2 separate regions of the Homo sapiens genome follow, and region 2 is linked to region 1. Evidence: fine-mapped expression QTL. A gene starts in region 1. The other region holds a variant in brackets. All regions are shown on one strand. Distances are from middle to middle.

What was found.
Region 2: its variant is fine-mapped to the expression of BTBD9 in lung (TOPMed, PIP above 0.99).

What each region holds. Positions count from the first base shown.
Region 1 is chr6:38,635,590-38,645,465 of GRCh38, reverse strand. It overlaps BTBD9 (BTB domain containing 9), which reads left to right and starts at 5,537. Exons shown (of 11, transcript NM_001099272.2): 1 at 5,537-5,666. LOC105375044 (a long non-coding RNA gene) reads right to left here and starts at 5,071. Exons shown (of 3, transcript XR_926767.4): 1 at 4,982-5,071. RefSeq lists enhancers at 5,195-5,274, 5,075-5,575 and a silencer at 5,675-5,874.
Region 2 is chr6:38,167,426-38,177,301 of GRCh38, reverse strand. BTBD9 (BTB domain containing 9) reads left to right here. Exons shown (of 11, transcript NM_001099272.2): 11 at 2,120-8,851. The coding sequence ends at 2,317. LOC124901315 (a long non-coding RNA gene) reads right to left here and starts at 2,124. Exons shown (of 2, transcript XR_007059571.1): 1 at 1,225-2,124. RefSeq lists enhancers at 7,218-7,849, 7,850-8,481, 8,482-9,112. The variant T/C (reference allele first, on the strand shown) is at 5,133.

The DNA of each region.
Region 1 (9,876 bases):
TGGTTTTATATGAACCTGGATTCTATATTTAACTCATGCAACTTAACCTGAAACCAGCTCTTATTCACAGAGTCAAAGCATGAGAAATCATTTGAAGCTTCAAACGTTCTTTTAAGAACAAAGTTTATTTTTCTAATTATAAAAATTATCATTGTACATTGTCAACAATTTGGAAAATAAAGAAAATTTACATTATTTTTCTCTCAACTATTTATTTTTAAAAATTTCAAAGCAACAGAATACAGATATGCAGGCCAATTCACCCACTTACAAACGCTGAGCCAACAAATTTACTCAGAGCTTCTTGGCAAAGTGAAAAGTGAAAAACAGGCAGTTATATAATTCACATTGCCTATAAAGAGAAAACACATCAGTTACTCAAGGGTAGCCAAATATTTCATGACTTGTGGCTCAGAGAGAAAATTCTCTTGTGTTCATATGAGGAACACAGAGTGATATCACACACAACAACCTGTCAACTATGCCTTCTAGAATTCCTCAGTATAAGGGAAAGGGTACATAGTATGAAGCCTGGGGGGTTAAAAGCATGGATTCGAATCCTAGCTTTATCACTTATTAATTGTACCTTGAGTAATTACTTAACTTTCTATGCCTTGGCTTCCTGTTTTATAAAATATTGTGAATAATATCACCTACTTCAAAGGGCAGTTATGAGGCTTAAATGAACTAATGCCTACAAAACACTTAAACATAGATAACATAGGTGCAAGTACTATGTATCTGGTACATGGTAAACATCCTTATTATTAAAGTCAACGCTAAAATGAATGTGTGTGCATATGCTAATAGTACAGAGAGAGGGCACTTAAACCAACTAAGGGCCTGAGGGAAGGTTTCCTGGAAAGAGGATGCTTGTGCTGGGTCCAAATCTTGGTCTACTATGACCTTGGCCAAATTATTTAAACTTTGTCCCTATCTGCTAAAACAGATACTTTGTCAGTGATCTATACAATAAGCTAATGTTTACAAAATTAAGTAAGATAATACATGAGGATTAGACAAGCAAATGTATTAAAGCATGGCATTAGTGACAAAAAATATTTCCTCTTGAATCTACTGGAAAAATATAAATTATTCTTGCATTTAACTTTTATTTGTGTCCATTTTAACAACTAACCAATTTTAGTTTAGAAACAGTTATATATAAATATTCATTTAGATCACAACAAAACTACCTAGAAGGAATGTTAGGTGACAACGCTGGTTTAGCACAATTCTCCTGTTCTTTTTTTACCTCCATGGAAATGCCTTAATATATTTGTGTCCATTTTTGAGGCATACTGTGTTTACTTAACAGTGTAGGTAAGTACAACACTCTTGACTTCCATTAGATAGAGCTAACTGCGCCCTTATCTGTATCACTTTATATATCCCTCATTTCACTTCATACAGATTCTGTTATAGTATATTGTATTATACTTACAATATATTTATATCTAGCTTTTAGGGTCTTGCTCTGTTGCCCAGGCTGAAGTGCACTGGCACAGTCATAGCTCACTGTAATCTGGTAATAGCTCACTGTAACCTCAAACTCCTGGGCTCACCCAATCCTCTTGCCTCAGCCTCCCAAGTAGTTAGAACTGCAGGTGCGCACCACCACACCTGGCTAATTTTTAGAAAATTTTTGTAGAGATGGGTGTCTGGCTATATTGCCCAGGCTGGTCTCAAACTCCTGGCCTCAGGTGATCTTCCCATTTTGGCCTTCCAAAGCACTGGGATTACGGGGCATGAGCCACCACAATCAGGTCTATCTTATTATTTTTTATTTTTATTTATTTACTTATTTTAATTTTTTTTTTGAGACAGAGTTTTGCTCTTGTTGCCCAGGCTGGAGTCCAATGGCGAGATCTTGGCTCTACACAACCTCTGCCTCCCGGATTCAAGTGATTCTCCTGTCTCAGCCTCCTGAGTAGCTGGGATGATGGCATATGCCACCATGCCCGGCTAATTTTTGTATTTTCAGTAGAGACGGGTTTTCATCATATTGGTCAGGCTGATCTCAAACTCTTGACCTCAGGTGATCTACCCGCCTCGGCCTCCCAAAGTGCTAGGATTACAGGCATAAGCCACCGCGCCTGGCCTTACTTTTTTTTCTTTTTTTTTTTTTAAAGAACTATGACAGCTAGTTACATACTTAGTATTTCTCTCTCTCTCTCCAAATTGTGAGTTCCTTGAAAACTGTGTTATAGCCATAGTATCTAGGACAGAAGCTGGCATGAAATATACTGATTCTTAGTGGTTGGAAAATGGTCTGAGAAGGATTTGAAGTGTGCTGTTATAAGCAAGTGAGTCTGATATGAAATTGGGGTGATTGAGCCCGGGGGTTGAGGCTGCAGTGAGCCAAGATTGTACCACTGCACTCCACACTGGGCAACAGAGCAAGATGCTGTCTCAAAAATAAAAAATAAAAATAAATAAAAGTATTGAATCAGATATGACAAAAAATAAAAAAATAAAACTGGGGGGATTATCTAGGAATTAATGAGAAAATCATAGACTCAGCTTGATCTCATCCTTTGCCAGATGCGAAAACCAAAGCCTGGAGTAGTTGAGGGATTTGTTCAAAGTTATCTAGCTAGTTAATGGCCAGAATCAAGACTAGAATCTCAAAACTCCCATCAAACTAGTCTAGAGGCCAATCCACTATATTGATCTGCCTTTCAGATCTCAGTGATTTGGTATCTATCTCCACTATCCCACTGAAGTTTGCTATTGTTGGTTACCAATCACTTTTCTGTTGCTAAATCCAGTGAATGCTTTCCAGTTCTTGATATACTTGGCCTTTTTGTGGTCTCTGACTCTGTTGACCCCTCTCCATCTTGCTTGCTTGGCTTCAGAGGCATTAGGCTCACCTAGTTCTCCTTTTCTCTCTCTGGCCATTCTTCCTCAGACTTCTTTTTGGGCTTCTGATCATCTGCACCTCCTTTTAAAGTTAGTGCTCTCCAGGGGCCCTATCCTTGCCTCTCCTTATTATGTCTTCTGTATTTTCTCCCTGATTGATCTCATCCATGCCTCGGGCTTAAATTACCAATTATTAATTTATTTCTTCCAAATCTATTTTAACTCAACCTCTTTCCTCATTCATAGACCTGTACAGTTTGAGTGTTTATTGGACATTTTTCTCTAGATGTGGAGGTTCCATCAGGTCACAGTCATATTGCTATAGTCTCTGAGGGGACCTACTGAATTGTACCCTTCTTTTCCAGGTAATGGAGAAAGCTGCAGGAAACCAACTATTATCTTTATTACTGACTGTATCAGTTTCCTATTGCTGTTGTAACAAGTTAGCACAAACTTGGTACCTTAAAACATACAAGTTTCTTATCTCGCAGTTCTAGAAGTCAGAAGTCCTAAAATCAAGGTGTTGGCAGGGCTGTGTTCTTAGGGTGCTAGAGAAGAATCCATTTCCTTGCCTTCTCCCGCATCTACAATTTGCTTGCGTTTCTTGGGTCCATCTTCAAAGCCAACAGTATAGCATCTTCAAATCTCTGTCTGACCTCTGCTTCCATCATCACATCTCCTTCTCTGACTCTGACCCTCCTGCCTCCAGCCCAGTCAGACAATCCAGGATAATCTCCCTAGATACATCATTTAATCATATCTGCAAAGTCCCTTTTGCCACATAATATAACATATTCATGGGTTCTGAGTATTAGGGTGTGGTCATCCTTTTTTTTTTGGTTGGGGGGGATCATTATTCTGTGTAACACAGCTGACAAAGCTGGTATTAAATATTATCTGTGGACAGACAGCTTCCTAATGCCAAACTCTGGAATTAAATACATATACTCTCTTTGTAGCCCTGGACTAGGCACCCTTGTCCCTACCCACAGGCCCTGCTCCAGAAGAAACGGAAAAGAACACCAGGACAGTTCCCTGAAGATAGTTATCTTTTAAGAGAAAAAGAATGGGATAGATGCCACATGTCCAGTTTCTCCCATTTAAGTTCACCAATCAGGAAGTCACTCCTCTAGGCAAGAGTGAGTTGCAGACAGGTATAAGAGAAACCAGGAGAGTATTACACTAATGGATATCATTCCATATGGAAGAAAGACATTGTGAATGGAGAGTAAATGTTTCCCTAACAAACATATCCATATTTGAACTCATCATCATACTCCACATATCTGGTCATCCTCCTAAGAAATGTCACCATCACTATCTATAATAGTAACTTAGACACTTGTGGATAATCAAGACTCATGTAGCTTGCCATCTTGCTAAATGTTACCACTGTCTACCTCAGCACTCATGCTAGAAACCTGGCCTACTCATTTATCCGCACTCAGTGCTGTGAATTCTACCACCTTAATGGCGCTAACATCTATCCCCTCCTCTATTCCCACTGCCAATGCCTTGTTTAATGTTCTTATCACTTGTCTGGAGTACTGCAATGGCCTAAAAATGGGTCTCCCTGCCCCAAGCCTTGCTTTTCCTGACCATTTTCACTTTCTACTTTTACTCATGAAGCTTCCTTTGCCCGGAATTAAGTCCTTCCCAATTTGTCTCCTCCAACAACTGCAAGGGCGGTCCCCTAGCTTGCTCCAGCGTCGGGGATAACTGACTTTCCTACACCAGCTACAGTCAGACCTGCACCCGGATTTCTAGGACTCTTATCTATGTAGATAGATAAATACATTTTTTTGAGACAGTGTCTTGCTCTCACTGCAGAGGCTGGAGTGCAGCGGCGCGATCACGGTTCACTGCAATCTTGAACTCCCCAGGTTCAAGCGATCCTCCCACCTCAGCCCCCCGAGCATTTGTGACTACAGGCGCGCGCCAACATGCCCATTTAGTTTTTGTCTTTTTTGTAGAGACGGGGTTTCACTATGTTACCCAGGCTGGTGTCGAACTCCTGAGCTCAAGCGATCCGCCCACCTCGGCCTCCCAAAGTGCTGGGATTACAGGCTTGAGCCACCAAGTCAAATGGGCTTTATACTTACAAAGTACCTTTGCATACCTTATTTCATTTTCACCTCACAATTCTCCAGCGTAGGCTGGACCGGTATTATTATGCCCATTTACTGAGAGAGGAAACTGAGAGTCAAGGCTGGGCCAGTCACACCCTGCTGCGAAATTAACGAGCATCACTTAGCAGCCTCGACATTAACCGCGCTCGCGCTCTCATCCCTTTCTGGTCCTACTCCTTGGAGAACCTTCCTGCACCTCCAAGAACTTGCCGATCGGGTCTGCGGCGGTCTGGACGAGGTCACTCCACAGGCGCCCAGGACCTTCTCATCCGTAGTGACGTGCGCCGGTGACGCCATACAGTGACGTGTGGTGACTCGACTTACCCGGAGCCAGGTGCCGGCAGGGCAGCCACACCCTGGGGCCCCCTGTTCTGGAGGGGCAGAGGGTCGGGCCGATGCGAAAAAGCCGCGGAAGCTGCCTTAGGCGACTTTCTGGGCCTGCATCGCCGGACCCAGCAGCCCGCTGTCGATCGGTTGCTAAGTGACGCCAGCGCGCAGTGGCGCGTGCGCGGCCACGGCGGAGTGCGTGAAAGCGGACGCGCGCCGCAGCAGCCGGGGCGGCGGCGAGGACGGCGGCCACGGAAGCGGCCAAGGGGGCGGTGGCGCAGAGAGGGGTGCGGAGCGGGCGGAAGAGGCGTCTGTGTCGCAGCTTGGTCTCAGAGGAGCATCGCTGGGGTGAGTAGCCGGGTCCTTGCAGGGGAGGTGGGGCCTGGCCGCACCTGCGGCGCGGGGACGCGCGCCCCCGCCGTATCCGCGCGCACCGCCCCCCGCCCCTCCGCCGCTTTTTCCGGGGGCGGGGGAGGAGCTGGGACGGGGCCTGACGAGGGTCATTTCTTGGGCCCGGGTGCTCTGGGAGAGCGGTAGCCGTCCCGTTCGCAGTCCACGAAGGTGTAGTGGGAAGTAGACGTTTCGGGGATTCGGGGTGGCTCTACCAGCCTCCCAAAGAGAGGAGTTCGAATCAGGGGCAGCCCAGGTTCCCTAGCAGTCTCGTATCCTGTCTGAGACGACGTTGCCTGGGACTGAGGAGGCGAAACCCGGGACCCCGGGGTGGGGGTTTGGAAAGTTTGGGACTGCTGGGGCCCTCATCTCCCCTGCCCTGGCCAGCCTCTGAGTAGGAGCTGGTTGTTATGGAGAGAGTTGTGAATCAGTGCCTGCGTGCGGCATCAGACACACCCACGACCTTGGGAGGGCGACCTGTCAGTATAGATCCGGGGCAGCCAACCTGTTGCCTAGAGTTTCTAACTTCACATGTATGTGCATGTGTTTCCTTGGCGTTTTAGTACATTGTTGTTACAGATTTTGAGACCAAGGTGCTGATAGGCATCCTCATTTCTTACTTCCTCATAGACTTAGTTATCTTGCTATATTTCCCAGAACCGTGTTGTGCTTTTGTCATTAGTAGATCCAAGGAAGTATGGAAGCATGTTTTGTTTGTTTTTCCTAAAGGCAGTACAGGCTGCTATTTTCTGGGCAGAAAATACGGATTCTGTTCACTGTGTGGGCGGAAAGTGTTGATGATGGGAGAACCCAGCATGTAAAGGTGTAGCTCATCCTCAGCCCTGTGCTGTCTTCTCAGTGCTCTGGACTCTATCATGGGTAGATGTATAGGGGTTGTGGTTACCATACTTGGGAGCGAGGAATATTGGAGACAGGGAAGAAGCCAGTCTTTTCTTTCTGTTGATTAAGGCAATTTGTAGAACCAGTGAAAAGATAGGCTGTACTGAAATCTAATGTTTTGTGTAAGAGGATAGAGGAAAATAAGTTCAAGGTTCTCATTTAGGTCTAAAATTCTATGATTCTGTTTCATAACTGAGAATCTGTAAAGTATGTTACCTCTTGGAACCAGTAATAACCTTGCTTTGTAACACTTATTAGATTACTCGGAATTCAAAGTGTCTTCCTCCCTCCACTGTAATAGCTTTTAGGACAGGAGTCATCTGTGTTTTCCTCCTTGCCCTATGTCTAACACATAGGAAAAATGTGCTTGCCACAGAGTAGGCATGCAATGGATATTTGTTATATAGCACACTATGCTCAAGTGGTGTATCTATGTATAGAAAGCATTGAGTTCAGTCCATCAAGTACTTAATACATGTGCCTCCCTCTGCCCAGTATCATGATAGGTGTGGGAGGAGGATTATGGAGTGAAAAATGACATAGAAGACCTGTCTTTTTTTTCCCTTTGAGAGCAGTAGTCTAGCTAGGAGATGTATAAAATAATTATAAAACCAAGTTAAGTAGCAGGTAACCAGTGCTGTTTGAGGACTATAAATGTGGTAGAAAATCAGAAAAGATAGGATGTGTAGGCTGAGTTAGGGAACTCTTTGAAAGAGGCAAGATTTGACTTGGTCTCTGAAAGAAGTTAAAATTTGTTAGGAAATAAACCAGGAGCTGAGAAAATAATAATGTGAATTTGGTTGTTGGAGGATATACCAAGACGACTTTTATGTCTGGTAACTGGAGCGGAACGTCTCTTATAGGGGAATACTGGAGAGAGATGGCTTAGCAGGTTGGGAAGGCAAAGTGTTAAGGATTAAGGCGGGCTTATCAGCATCCCACTGTTAACAAGATACAGCCTTCTTGTAAGGTGGGATAGAGGTTGTATTAATCAGAGTACAGTCTTTGACAAGAATAAGTGTTATCCTTACTTGAAAGTAAAGGATATTACGCTTGAACCAATATCAGGTTGTTAATATACTTTTGATTTCAATTACTAATTGGAATCGATGCCTCACTAATGTGCATGTATTTTAGGTAGTCAGTGGTGCATGTCTCATTATCTAAAATCTACCTGATGTACTTGGGCCATTGTATTGGAAATTTACTGAAATGATGTACCAATAGTCATCCAGTCACACTCAGTGACATAGTTTTGCTTGGGATTATCTCTCTGAGGTTTGTCTTTACTGCTGATCCTGTAAAATATACAAATGTTAGTTGGGAAAGGAGTCTTTCTGATGAACGATGCTTAAAAATACTGACCAAAGAGATTTCAGAATAATTAAAGACCCTGCTGCTGAATATTGAACCCTTGGTCTTTATTTATAACATCTTCTGTTATGTGAAAATTCTTTTGAGTGGTATGTAAACCTGAAGTTGAATTGCTAACCAAGATGTGTAAAGTTACAACTGCAAATGTTGCATTATTTAACAACTCAGCAGATACTTACTGGGTGCTGGCTATGGCGAGACACTTCGTTGGGTGCTGGGAAGACAAAGAAGTTAAGACACAGTATATGCTCAGCATACTAAGTGTTCATCAGAAGAGATAAACCACTAACCATTATGTGCTGTGACAAATTAATCACTTTTGGAATGAATAATGTGCTGGGGGAGTAGAGTGCTTTGGCTGGAGAAAAAACTGATAGGGAACATGTTGAGAAGAAGGGGATGGAGCTTAGCTCTGAGGGTTAAATAAAATTTCGCCACATGTAGAGGTGGAAGAGAGCATTCCAGGGGCCAGCATAAGCAAAGTTGCTGAATATTAAAATTAAATAGCGCTTTTGGAAATATCTTGAGTTGTTTCTTGTGGGCAAGAGAGGGGAGAGGGCTGAACTCATCTCAAGAACCCATTCCTGAGATAATGAACCCATTCCTGCTATAATGGCATTCATCCATTCATGAGGGCCTAATCACTTCTTATTGCATGGGGGAAGTGATGAGGCAGGAAGCTGTTTTTGGAGCCAAATTATGAGGGGGTCTTCCACTTCATCCTAAAAAGTCTAGACTCCTCCCATCCATTGGCAGTGGAGAGCCATAGAAGGTAGAATAATCAGAAAGTTGACAGTTCGTGTGCAGATTGCATTAGAGTAGAGAGGCAGGGAGACTAGAGTGTAGGTGAGAAATGTTGGACAATGGGAATGGATAGATTTTGGAGACATTTTTAGATGTTAAAATCTCTACATTTATGACCAGCTAGAGGTAAGGGAGAGTGAGAAGTCAAAGATAATATGTCTAGTTTGAGCAACTGTTTGCTTATGATGACATTAAGTTAGAAATCACAGGAAGAGGAACAGGTTTGAAGTGGAGAGAAGAAATAATGGCAGTGTTAATTCTGAGGTTTCTGTGGGGAGTTTAAAAAGAGAGATCCACTAAGTAACTGGAAATGCTACTTCAGAGTTTATGAGATGGTTAGGGACAATTGTAATATAGATGTCCGCTGAGGCTGTGGGAGTAGCAACCTTCTAGGAGGCATGTTAGTATAGTAGTTAACTTAGTGGACTTTGGAGTTAGGAAGATGGCAGGTCAAATCTCTGTTATGCTGTTTATTGGTTGGCTGACCTTTGGCAAGTTATTTAACTTCTCTAAGCCTAGGCTTCTTATCTGAATTAAAGAATTGTGGAGATTATACATGTGCACAGTGATTAACACAAAGGTACTATGTGCACAGTGATTAACACAATGCCTGTCTTATAGATGCTTAATATAATAAATGGCAGCTGTTGCTGTTATTGTTAGTAGTAGTTATAGATGTAGAGATAGTAGGAGAGGCCCCAATGCCAGAAAAATGGAGAGTGAGAACTGGAAAAGATGGTGAATGGAACTTTTGGACGTTTAAATCAGTATTTAAACTTGGATCAGTTCTTGTCTTTGTTTTGTGCTGCTATTTCATATTTTATGTTTCATAATGGCAGCACAAAACAAACTAAGACAAGAACTGATCTAAGTTTAATTTATAAAGAACAGTCTGGTTAATTTATAAAGAACAGAAATTTATTTCCTGATAGTTCTGGAGGCTAGGAAGTCCCAGATCAATGTGCCAGTATCTGGTGAGGGCCTTCTTGCTGTGTCATAACATGGCAGAAGGCATCACATGGGTGAGAGAGAGAGGGAAGGGGGCTGAACTGATCATGTCAACCTATTCCCACTCTACTGGCATTAATTC
Region 2 (9,876 bases), 470 kb after region 1:
GCAAGAGCAAAAGGAGAGAAAAACCATTCAATACCAGAGGAGTGAGCTTGAGAAAAGGTAATAAGGAGTAGGACAAACGTAAGTCAATTCCAGGATTAGTGTCAGCCTGAGGCTCTGGGGAGCGGCCTCCGGAGATATTGACCGAGCAGGGAGAGCAGGGATTACACAAATAACCAATTAAAGAACATGGTGGGGCCGGATAAAGAGCTCCTGTGTCAGCAGGGGGAAGGAGCAGTAAAACACAGCCTGTCCTGAAAAGTCCTGCGTGTGGGCGTGGGAACAGAATATGGCTCTGGGTCATACTGCAAAAGAGAAGGCGTATTTGCTGGGTTATGAGAAGCTTTAGTGGGGGGGGTGTTGAGGACCGGGACTGCACTCTCAAGGCGTGTCCTGGCCCCGCAGAGCCTGACCTCACCTATCCCTGGGTGTGGAAGAAGGAACACTTATAAGGCAAGTGACCCATGAGTGGCCGACATGCCCAGGGCGGTGTTGTTACTGAAGAGCTGCAAGATTGTGAAGCTGATGAAGGAGTGGATTAATGGTTGTCACCTAGAGGATGATTCTCAGATTCCCCTGGCCTAGCCCAGGGCAGAGCTGATGGCCCAAATAGTGTTCAGATCTCCACATAAGGCCTTCCCCTAGGACCTAGCCCCTCCAGTTGTTGACTGGTAAGCCCTGCAGATGGACCCACAGAAGGAGATTTTATAAAAAAGGAAGGAAGGAAAGAAAGGAAAAGGAGGGAGACATAGGCTAAGTGGGGACAGCTTCAGCCGTGAGGCAGTGAGGGGTCTGCAGGAGGCGAGGACCGTGCCTGAGCCCCTGCCCTATAAGGAGAGAAATCAGCTCCCTCTAAGAGAAAATGGCAGCTCCCAAAACAGAGTGGACACACCAGGAAGACACGGTCTCAGTCTTCATATGAGAAAATGTGAAATTTAAAACAGTGGTCAATAAATGAATTGAAGTGGGAATATGGAAAAAACAGTGATGCAGGGAGGTAAGCGTGGAATTTATATTTTCAATATAATTCTGCAGTTGATACTACATTTGTCTCTGTGAACTTGATTCTACGGTAGAAGGCCGTGTGTATGTATGTGCACACATGCTCGTGCAGTGGCAACGACAGCCCCCACCCCGCCCTTCTCTCCTGCACCCCACAGCTCACACATGCATGTCAGGACCCCCCGAAGCACGTTGTCTACTCTCCAGGTCAGGGCCATGGCTTACCCTTGCTTGCGGGGCGCTGAGCTCGGTGCTGTGCCCTGTCTGCACAGTGCTGGCACGGTGTTGGCACAGAGTTCATGGTGCTTCCAGGCTGACCTGCTGTCAGGTATGCAAACTCTTCTTAGCTCCTAGAGGGTGACTGTCGGCCAGGTGGCTGGCTTCTACACATTGGGGGCGTTTGTTCCAGGCTGGCTGGAGCCACATGAGGTTGAAGTCCACTCCCCAGCACGGCTGCTTAGCAGGGTCTGTGCTCAACCATTGCAGGGCCAGGAGAACTATGCATCAGGAACCAGCTCAGGACAGGACACCATGCCATTGCAGGGCACGCTCACACACATTCACATGCACTCAGACTGGGACCCTGCAGACACACCAATGAACCTCAAGTGCACAGCTTTGGGACGCGGGAGAAAACCAGAATACCCAGAGACAACCCACGCAGATGCCACACAGATGGTGGACGTTATCTGTGGACCTGCTTTCCACAACCTCACAGAATCGAACCACCACCACCACCACCACCAGTCAACTCCTGTTGACTTTTAACCCAACTGCCAAATACAAAAATTAATTAAAAAAGAAAAAAGAGCCCATTAGACAAAGGTTGGCAAAAACGGAGTAATCCAGTGTGAAGATTTTGTGGGAATCCGTGTCATGGTGTCTCTAACTTTTGGGCCACTGGCTCATTTCCTTTCCTCTTGACTGATCAAAATGTGTTTACAGCATGCTAGTTGCCATCAGGTGTCTGCGCCGGGGCAGGCGTGGGCAGTGGGAAGGACCTCCTCTAACTCCCTCGTGGTGGCCCCCAAAGCTGGGCAGGGCAGTATCCCAACTTGCGGCAACTCCAGGGCCGCATGCTGACCCTTCACTCATGGGGTCTTTTCCTTTTCTCTCCCAGGTGTTCCACTGTGTCCACTTTGAGTGTCCAGAGCAGCAGAGCAGCCAGAAGGAGGAAAATAGTGAGGAATCGGGGACAGGGGACACCAGCCTGGCCGGTCAGCAGCTCGACTCCCATGCGCTGCGGGCGCCTAGTGGCAGCTCACTACCCTCCAGCCCAGGCTCCAACTCACGCTCCCCCAACCGGCAGCACCAATAAAGGAGGCAGCGGGCCTGGTGTGACTTGGTGGGCTCGGGCAACGGCAGGAAACGGTCTCCTCCCTGAGCAGGGGTCTCTGTTGACTGCCCCCACCTCTGCCCCTTTCCAGGGAGGAGCCGACCTAGCTGCAAAAGCAGACACCGAACAGGTTTTCTCCCAAGGACAGAAAGGGGCTGCTTTGTTCTTCTCAATTTATCCAAATCAGGCAGGTCTCAAGGGGGAGAAAATGGGTCTTCAATCTTCATCAAGTCCACCATTAACACCCTACCTCTCTAATCTAGCCCAGGCGCAGGGAACAGGAGGAAGTCATAGACAGGCCTGTGTTGGAATACAAAAATGGCACGCAAACACTCAGGCGGAGGAGAAAGCCATTGGGCCTTTGCTACCTGGAGGCACCCTTTAGGAATGGGCCTCCATAGAGTGTTCATTCTGCTGGAATACATTGCCCTGGCAACTAAATGATTTTTTATTTGTTTTAGTTATTCTCCACTCAGTGAATCATAGGTGTTCCGGATCTATTTGAAATGCTCAAACAGCAAATCACTAGTTTTAATCCCTTTTGATGCTATAATTTTCCTTCCTTGGTTTTGAACGGTTCAGCTTGCGGGGACAGAGACCCATCGTGCATGTCTCCTAAATGAGACACGGATGCAGCTCATCCTGGCACTTGGGCCACAGAGGAAGTGCCACAAATGCACACAAGCAAATCAACCTGTGGACACTGGAGTTAATAGTCACTCGTGTGGCTGAGTTACTCACCTGTCATTCCTGACATGGATCCAGCCTTTAAGCTTGGGAGGCTGACAAGGAAATAGTTACTATGCCCGCTGCTAATTCACTGTTCCGAAGTCCATGTAGATAAACATATACCGAGTTCTGGCGTGGCCAAACCTGCCGGGGACTGCCGTGGCTTAGCTGCCCCTCCAGTTGTGTTTATCGAAGCATTGGAGAGGCAGCCACCTGCCCATCAGCGTCAGGAACGCAGAACTGGGACTCCGTGCTTCCCCCACACCACAGTACTCAACTGGGGACTGAAAAATAGCAGTTCCAAGAAGCTTTTCTCCTAATCCTCATCAAAAGGACCTCATTTGACGATGGTGGCTTGATGTGGCTCCGTCTCCTACTTAGTGATTTCCATTCCAGTGCTGCCTGCCCTGGGTAACTGCGCACAACATTGCCTGCCCCTCCGCTGTCCCCAGAGCTCCGGCCTCTGTCGCCATCAGCATCAGCCTGGGAGTCTCCCCAGGACGGCATGGCACGTGAGCAGCACTGCAGTCCTTGGGTCTTCGGCGCCAACCTGCAACCCTGATCAAAGGAGGGTGAGGGCGTGGGAGTTTCCTTTCAGGTGTGTCAAAGACATATCAGCTGCGCTCTAGAAAGAGCCAACGGGTCAGCCGCTTCCTCCTAGTTTAACTTGATTTTGAGTGATTTGTCCATATGGAAATAGTAGGGTAGCATCAAACTGCGTGATTAAATTGGAAGACTGTCTTTCCGTGTGAACACAGGATGGCAGACATCAGAGGGCTACCGGGGCAGGGTGGACACGTTCCTGAGGAGAAGCCAGGGTCTGCAGCTCTCCATCCTCCCCGGTAGCTCCAGCTGCAGGGCTGAGCTGCTTCCTATCCCCTCAGCTCTGATCTCTGCCACTTCCCTGTTGTGTGGGAGAGTGGAACACTCCTGGGATGCCAGGCATTTCATAATGGGAGGAGGCTCCTGTAAGGAACGGTGGGCGCCCGCTCACAGTGGGGGGCCCTCCAGCATGGTTGCTGACTCTGTCAGCCCCCAGCCCCGGGTTGCCAATTAGCCAGAGAGCTCCTGCACACACAGCACTTCCTTCCCCAGTGTGTTTTCTACCCAGATGGGGACAAAGGAGCCAGACAGTCATATCAAGGGCAGAGTTCAAACATTTTGAAATGAGCCATTCACATGCTTCTTTTTAAACATGGGCATCACCTGCCCAGAGGCCCTTGGCCTGAAGCAGCATGCTGCTGACCTTGGGAAGAGAGGGTGGGCTGGTGGGGGTGCTGGAGGAGCTGCCCGGCCCTGCATCTGCAACCCTCCAGTCCCCTGCCCACAGAGCACGCAGAGCCCTCCTGTGCTCCGGGAACGAGATAGCAGCTTGGCAGCTCGGCCTCGCATCTGAAAAGGAATACGCTGCAAAGCCTCGGCCCTAGACCCACATCTGCAGCTCCCTGGCCTGTGGCGGTTCTTTCCTTCGGGGCATGCCCTTCCAGATCTCTGTCCCTCCTGTCTTCTAGCACTTTAAAGATGCCCCTTATCATCAGATAAAGAGAAGTATGGGGACGATGGGGTGGCACTAACAGTAGATGTCATTGGTGAGGACTGATGGCAAAGTCTCATTCCCTCACAGCCGCGCTGCCAGCTCGCCTCCCCCTCGCTTTGCTGGGAGCCTGCCCTGGACTCCAAAAGGACACGGGTTCACCTCCTTTCCCAGGCTGGAGGGGTACTGCCCTTCCCTGAGGGGCCTTCTGACTGGGGCAGGAACTCTTTTCGTGTGTCCAGCTGGGCCTGGAGGCCAAGTCAAGGTGTGTCACACCACACACCAGGGCAAGGACCTCATCTCCAGGGAACAGGGACAAGTGAGTGGCTACCAGAAAGTCCCCGGGCAGCCTGGAGTTCCCCAGAGCCTGGCTGGTCCTACAGAGCACTTCTCCCCTGGGCCACCAGGACCAAAGCGACCTAAACACTTGAAGCTAAAAGCAAGTGCTGATGATGGGATGGGCTGGCACGTGGCTGGGAGGGCTCCTGGGCACCACAGAGCCCTCAGCCCAGCAGAGAGTGGAGGCTCAGTCCG[T/C]GGGGAGCGGGGGTTGTGAAGGAGACATGGCCAAGCCCCTGGTCGGGGAGATAAGCTCCCCCATGCCCAGGCCAGCCCCAGGGGCAACAAGCCAACATGGAGAGAGGTGGCAGGTGAGGCTGACAGGTGGGTGCCTGTGGCCTGGGCCCATGAGGGCAATGGTCCTCAGTAACCAATGGAAAGGACACAAGGGCGCCATGGTCACCACCACCCAGGCAAAGAAATGGGAGGTGGCCAGCACCCCCACCCTTCACTTTTCATTATTATTATTATTATTATTATTATTATTTTTTTTTTTTTTTTTTTTTTTTTTTTTTTTTTTTGAGAGTAGAAAGGCAACTTCATTGGAGCTTTTGGGGAAAAAAGCCTTCAAAGTCACCTTCTGGCAGCTCTGGGGAGGGTCATTTGGGGTGGACTGAGAGTGTAGGGCAGGTAGGGTGTGTGCTGGGCAGCAGCTGTGTCCATGCAGCCAGCACCCAGCAGGGCAGTCTCACAGGAGCCGTTGTGAGCACTTTGGACTTGAAGCAGCTATGAACCACCCCCCGCCCCCACCGTCTCTCCCTCTCACACACACACACACACACACACACACACACACACACACACACACACACCCGTTTTACCATTTTCTCAGTGCTTTTTCTGCTTTCATTCCTTTGATTTTAGTTAGAAGCACAAGCCATGATGGATGTGGGACTCTTCTCAATTGCTCTTTAAATTGTCACTTTTTAAATCCTATTAAATGAAGTGTCGATTCCTGACAAATACATTAAAAGTGTTTTATTCCTAGAAGAGTTGGGAAAAGAAATTATTTTCAGCAAGAGTAGGATGTTTGTTAAACTGATTCCTTGGCAAAAAAGAGAAAAAAAGCTTTTGAATTGTGCAAAAAATTGCCCAGTATTATGCTGTCGCCCCAGTTGTCAAACTGCTGTGCAGATGGCTCCAGCCCAGTCAACTTCACCTTCTTTTTAATTTAGAAGATAACAAAATTGTAATCACTTATCCTTTCCAGAGCCAAGGGGGAAAAGGAAGGTATAATCTACAATAAAAAGCGAGCGTTCTGTGTACTGAGGCCACTTGGTGATAAAGAGATGGAGCGCTCCCCTCACAGACTTCAATTAAGAACCTCCCTTTGGACAGGGAAGAAAGGTGTCAAAGAGGAAAAGAAAATTAAATTTGCTTCCTTCCAGGAGTTTTTCCTCATTAGTGCTTGCTTGTCGGTGTTATTATTTTAATCTTACCTTCTATGTGGTGACCAGCTCCTCCGAGCGATGCCCAGGTCGGGCACGGCCCGGGCAGGGCAGGTCTGCAGCGATGCCGTGGCAGAGGTGGGCATACTCCATTTGTTTTGGCAGCTGCAGCCATTGATTCTGCATATTTTTCCTGACAACAGCCCCGGCAGGAGTTCAGTTAGGAATTTAAAGTGCAGTTCATGGTTCTGTGCCACCGTGGCTTTTATTATTATAATATTAAATTAGAAGTTGTCCTAGTGCCTGGTGTTTGCTCAGAGTTTCCAGAAGAGAGGGAAGGGCAAGGTTTAAATGGCATGCAGGACAACTGGAATGCCCCCATCTCTCTCGCTGACACGGATCCAGTCATACCTGGGGCTGGACGGGATTTGGAGGCCCTGGTCATTTGCAGAGTGAATGGTGAAGGGCGCGGAAAAGGTTTGCTTGGAGGAAAGACCGGTTGCAGAGGCGAGGCGGAGGGAGGAGGGGCGGAGGCAGCAGGTCTTTGTTTGTGGTAGGTCTCTGGCTTCCATCAGGGAGGAGGAAAGAGGCTGTGCCCTTCCTGGCTCTTGGCTGCACCACTGAGGACGCTCCGAGGGACAGCGTGCTCACCCATCCTTTGCACAGTGCTGGCCCCAAGCCCCACGGCCTTCCAGCTAGGATTTTCTGCTGGGCTCATGCAGAGGCAGGGGACAGGTGCATGGAAGAGCCGCCCCACCCGACACACCATTGTTTGAAAATCACTGTTCTCTTTACTCACTTAAAAAAGTGTACAGGGAACACCTGTTCCTGGCATAATGCTCCAACCTCGCGGAAGGGGCCAGGTGCCCTTCATCTGGCTCTGGCTGCTTCCGACCTGGGCCCACGTCATCGTTCACGTCCTCTGTGACCACCACTGGTCACGGTGCTCCCTGGCCCAGCCTCCAACCCACCCAGCACCCTGGCATCTCCCAGGCCAGTCTGCTGCACCCAGCGAGCTTCCAGTCAGAAGCCAGGCTGAACGGCCCTCCTGCCCCATCAGCTTCGTGTCTTCTTTTTTTTAAAGAACTGAAATAGTCCCCAAGAGGCCTCATGGCCTGAAGACTCACAATCATCCACCTGTAATTTATGATAAATGTCTGGGAGCATTTACCATTTGCGTCCGTGAGTATTTATAGCCCTGAATGGGCGGGGGGGAGGGGGGGTGGAGGAGGCCCTGCAGCCAGGAGCTACACACCTGTCCCCACTAGTGTCCCCTGGTTGACAGAGCCCCCTCAGCCTCCCCAAGGCTGTCACTGCGGCTGTGACAGCTGAGGAGTGCCGCCTTTGAAAGCCAGTGGACAGTCGCTCCACTAGGGGGAGAGGCCCTGGCCCTGGCGCAGAGGAGGCGTTGCGAGGCGGGACGGGGGCTGGAGGGGCTGAGCAGCCTTCAGGGCAGGGACTGGGCCCTGGGTCACTGGAGACGTTGATATTAGTCCGTCTGCTGCCAAATTGCTCCCCACCACATGAGCCCCAGGGGTTTATGTCCCAGGAAGGCGAGGGTGCCCATCTGAGCGGAATTGGGAGGGGACGGCACCAGCTCATCTCCCTCAGGGCCTTTGCCTCCTGGTGCTGCCCTGGTGGCTGCTCCTGCACCACAGCCCCTGATGGCTGCTGCTAGTCCTGAGTTGCTGGGTTTACCCCCAGCCCACACTTCCCACCTGGGCCTGAGGGTGCGGCCAGTGCCCTAGTCCTAGCCACTACAGGAGTCATTCTGAGACCTGCTGGAGGCCATGGGGTCTTCCCAGGCCCCTCAATCAGCTGCTTCCAGGGTCAGCAGGGCAGGGTGCTGCCAGTAAGGTCCTCAGGGAGCACAGCCCGGCCGCCCAGGCTGGGGGATACTGGGGCAGAGCTTCCAGGTCTGTGGGGCCTGATCTCTCCCCAAGGCTCTCCAGGCCTTGGTGCGCCCTCCACAGTGACCTTCAGAGAGGCTGCACCCCCTCAGAAGAACAGTGAGAAATCTCTCCATCACACGCTCCCTGGTCCTTATGTCCCTGAGGCCACCCTTCCCCACCCCCCAGTGCCTGGAGAAGCGTGAGACTCTGGAGGGGCGCCAGGAGGCCAGGGGTCCTCAGGGCTAGGCCTGGAGCTCGGCCCAAGAGCTGCTTTTGCGAAGCCTGTCTTGAATCCGGATTCACCAGAGAACAAGAGCCTCCCAGCCTTTGGCGTTTCTGGGCCTGTAAAGATGTGTGTACCTCCCAGGCCACTCTGATGCAAGGGCAGGGACCATGCCAGGCCTGGGTTGGGAATGGCTCTGTGACTCCAGAAGCTCCGTCTAAAACTCCAAAGATGCCCAAAAGGCTGTGCTGCTATGTGGAATGTGTATTATTTGTGAGCACGATGCGGCTTCTTCCTCATTTTGCAGAGCAACCTAAGCGGGCAGATGTACAAACCGTGTGTTCGAAACCCCTGAGTCCATGTGTGTGAAAATGCAGGTTTTCTCTTAGAAATAAAGTGGTGACTTGTGCTGTATTCGAGTCGTCACTCTCTGCAGCAACCCCTCTCGATGCCCAGGGACAAGCAGGGGGCCCAGGCCAGGGTCAGCCCCTCTGCCCCAGTGCCCTCATATGGACACTGCCATCCGGCCCTCTCTGCAGGCCCAGGCACTCAGGGGTGTCCACCCAGGCCCCCGCTCGCTTCCTCTGCCTTGTGGAGGGAGGCAGACAGCCCTGGAGCAAAGCAGGCACAGAGAGGCCGGCTTGCTCCAGGGCGGCGGCGTGGGCAGATCCAGCGGATTTGGGCCAGCACTGTCACCGGCTCTGAGGGCCTTCCCTCAGGGTGGAGGGGCTGTCCAGCTCCCTCCCACCTCCTGTGGCACTCTCTCCACCCCACCCCATGGCCTATTCGATGCCATTTTTGGGGGGTTAGGAAACACCACCTTGAACCCAGTCCCCTTCCCTTGTCATTTCTCCTCCTCTGAGCTTAGCCCCAGCTGCTTTCTTCCTCATGTCTTGCTTCTTCTACCTGATGAGCCCGTGAGTATTTGGTAGCAACTTCCCCCATTTATCTTGCTTCCCAGGGGAGATGCGGGGAAGGGAACCAGTGAGCCAGGAGGCGGCCCCTTGCAGGCGCTGCCGCTCTCCCTGGCCCCAATCTCGAGTCCTGGGTGTGTGAACTCAGTGTTGCAGGCCCTGCCGTCTGGGATCCAGTGCCCTCTCCTGTGACCCCACAACTGGGCCTGAGTCTCCAGCAACTCCGCTGGTGCATGTGGGGCCCAAGGCTCCATGCGCTGAACATGAGGGACCCCGGCCACCTGGAGCCTTGGCCTCCTCCTGAGCTGTTGTCACGTGGAAACCAGGCAGGGGTCTGCTCCTCTCAGTGGAATTTTTTCTTGGAACCTGCACTAGGGACTCTCCATGTTTTTGGTTAACTTCCACCTGGTGGCTTTGGCCGAGCACTGGGGCTCCAAGTCAGGTGCTCCATTTCCAAACCATGCAGGCATCCTTTCGGGAGCACACCCACCTAGCTTCGATCTTCCAGAACTGACAACTTGTTGC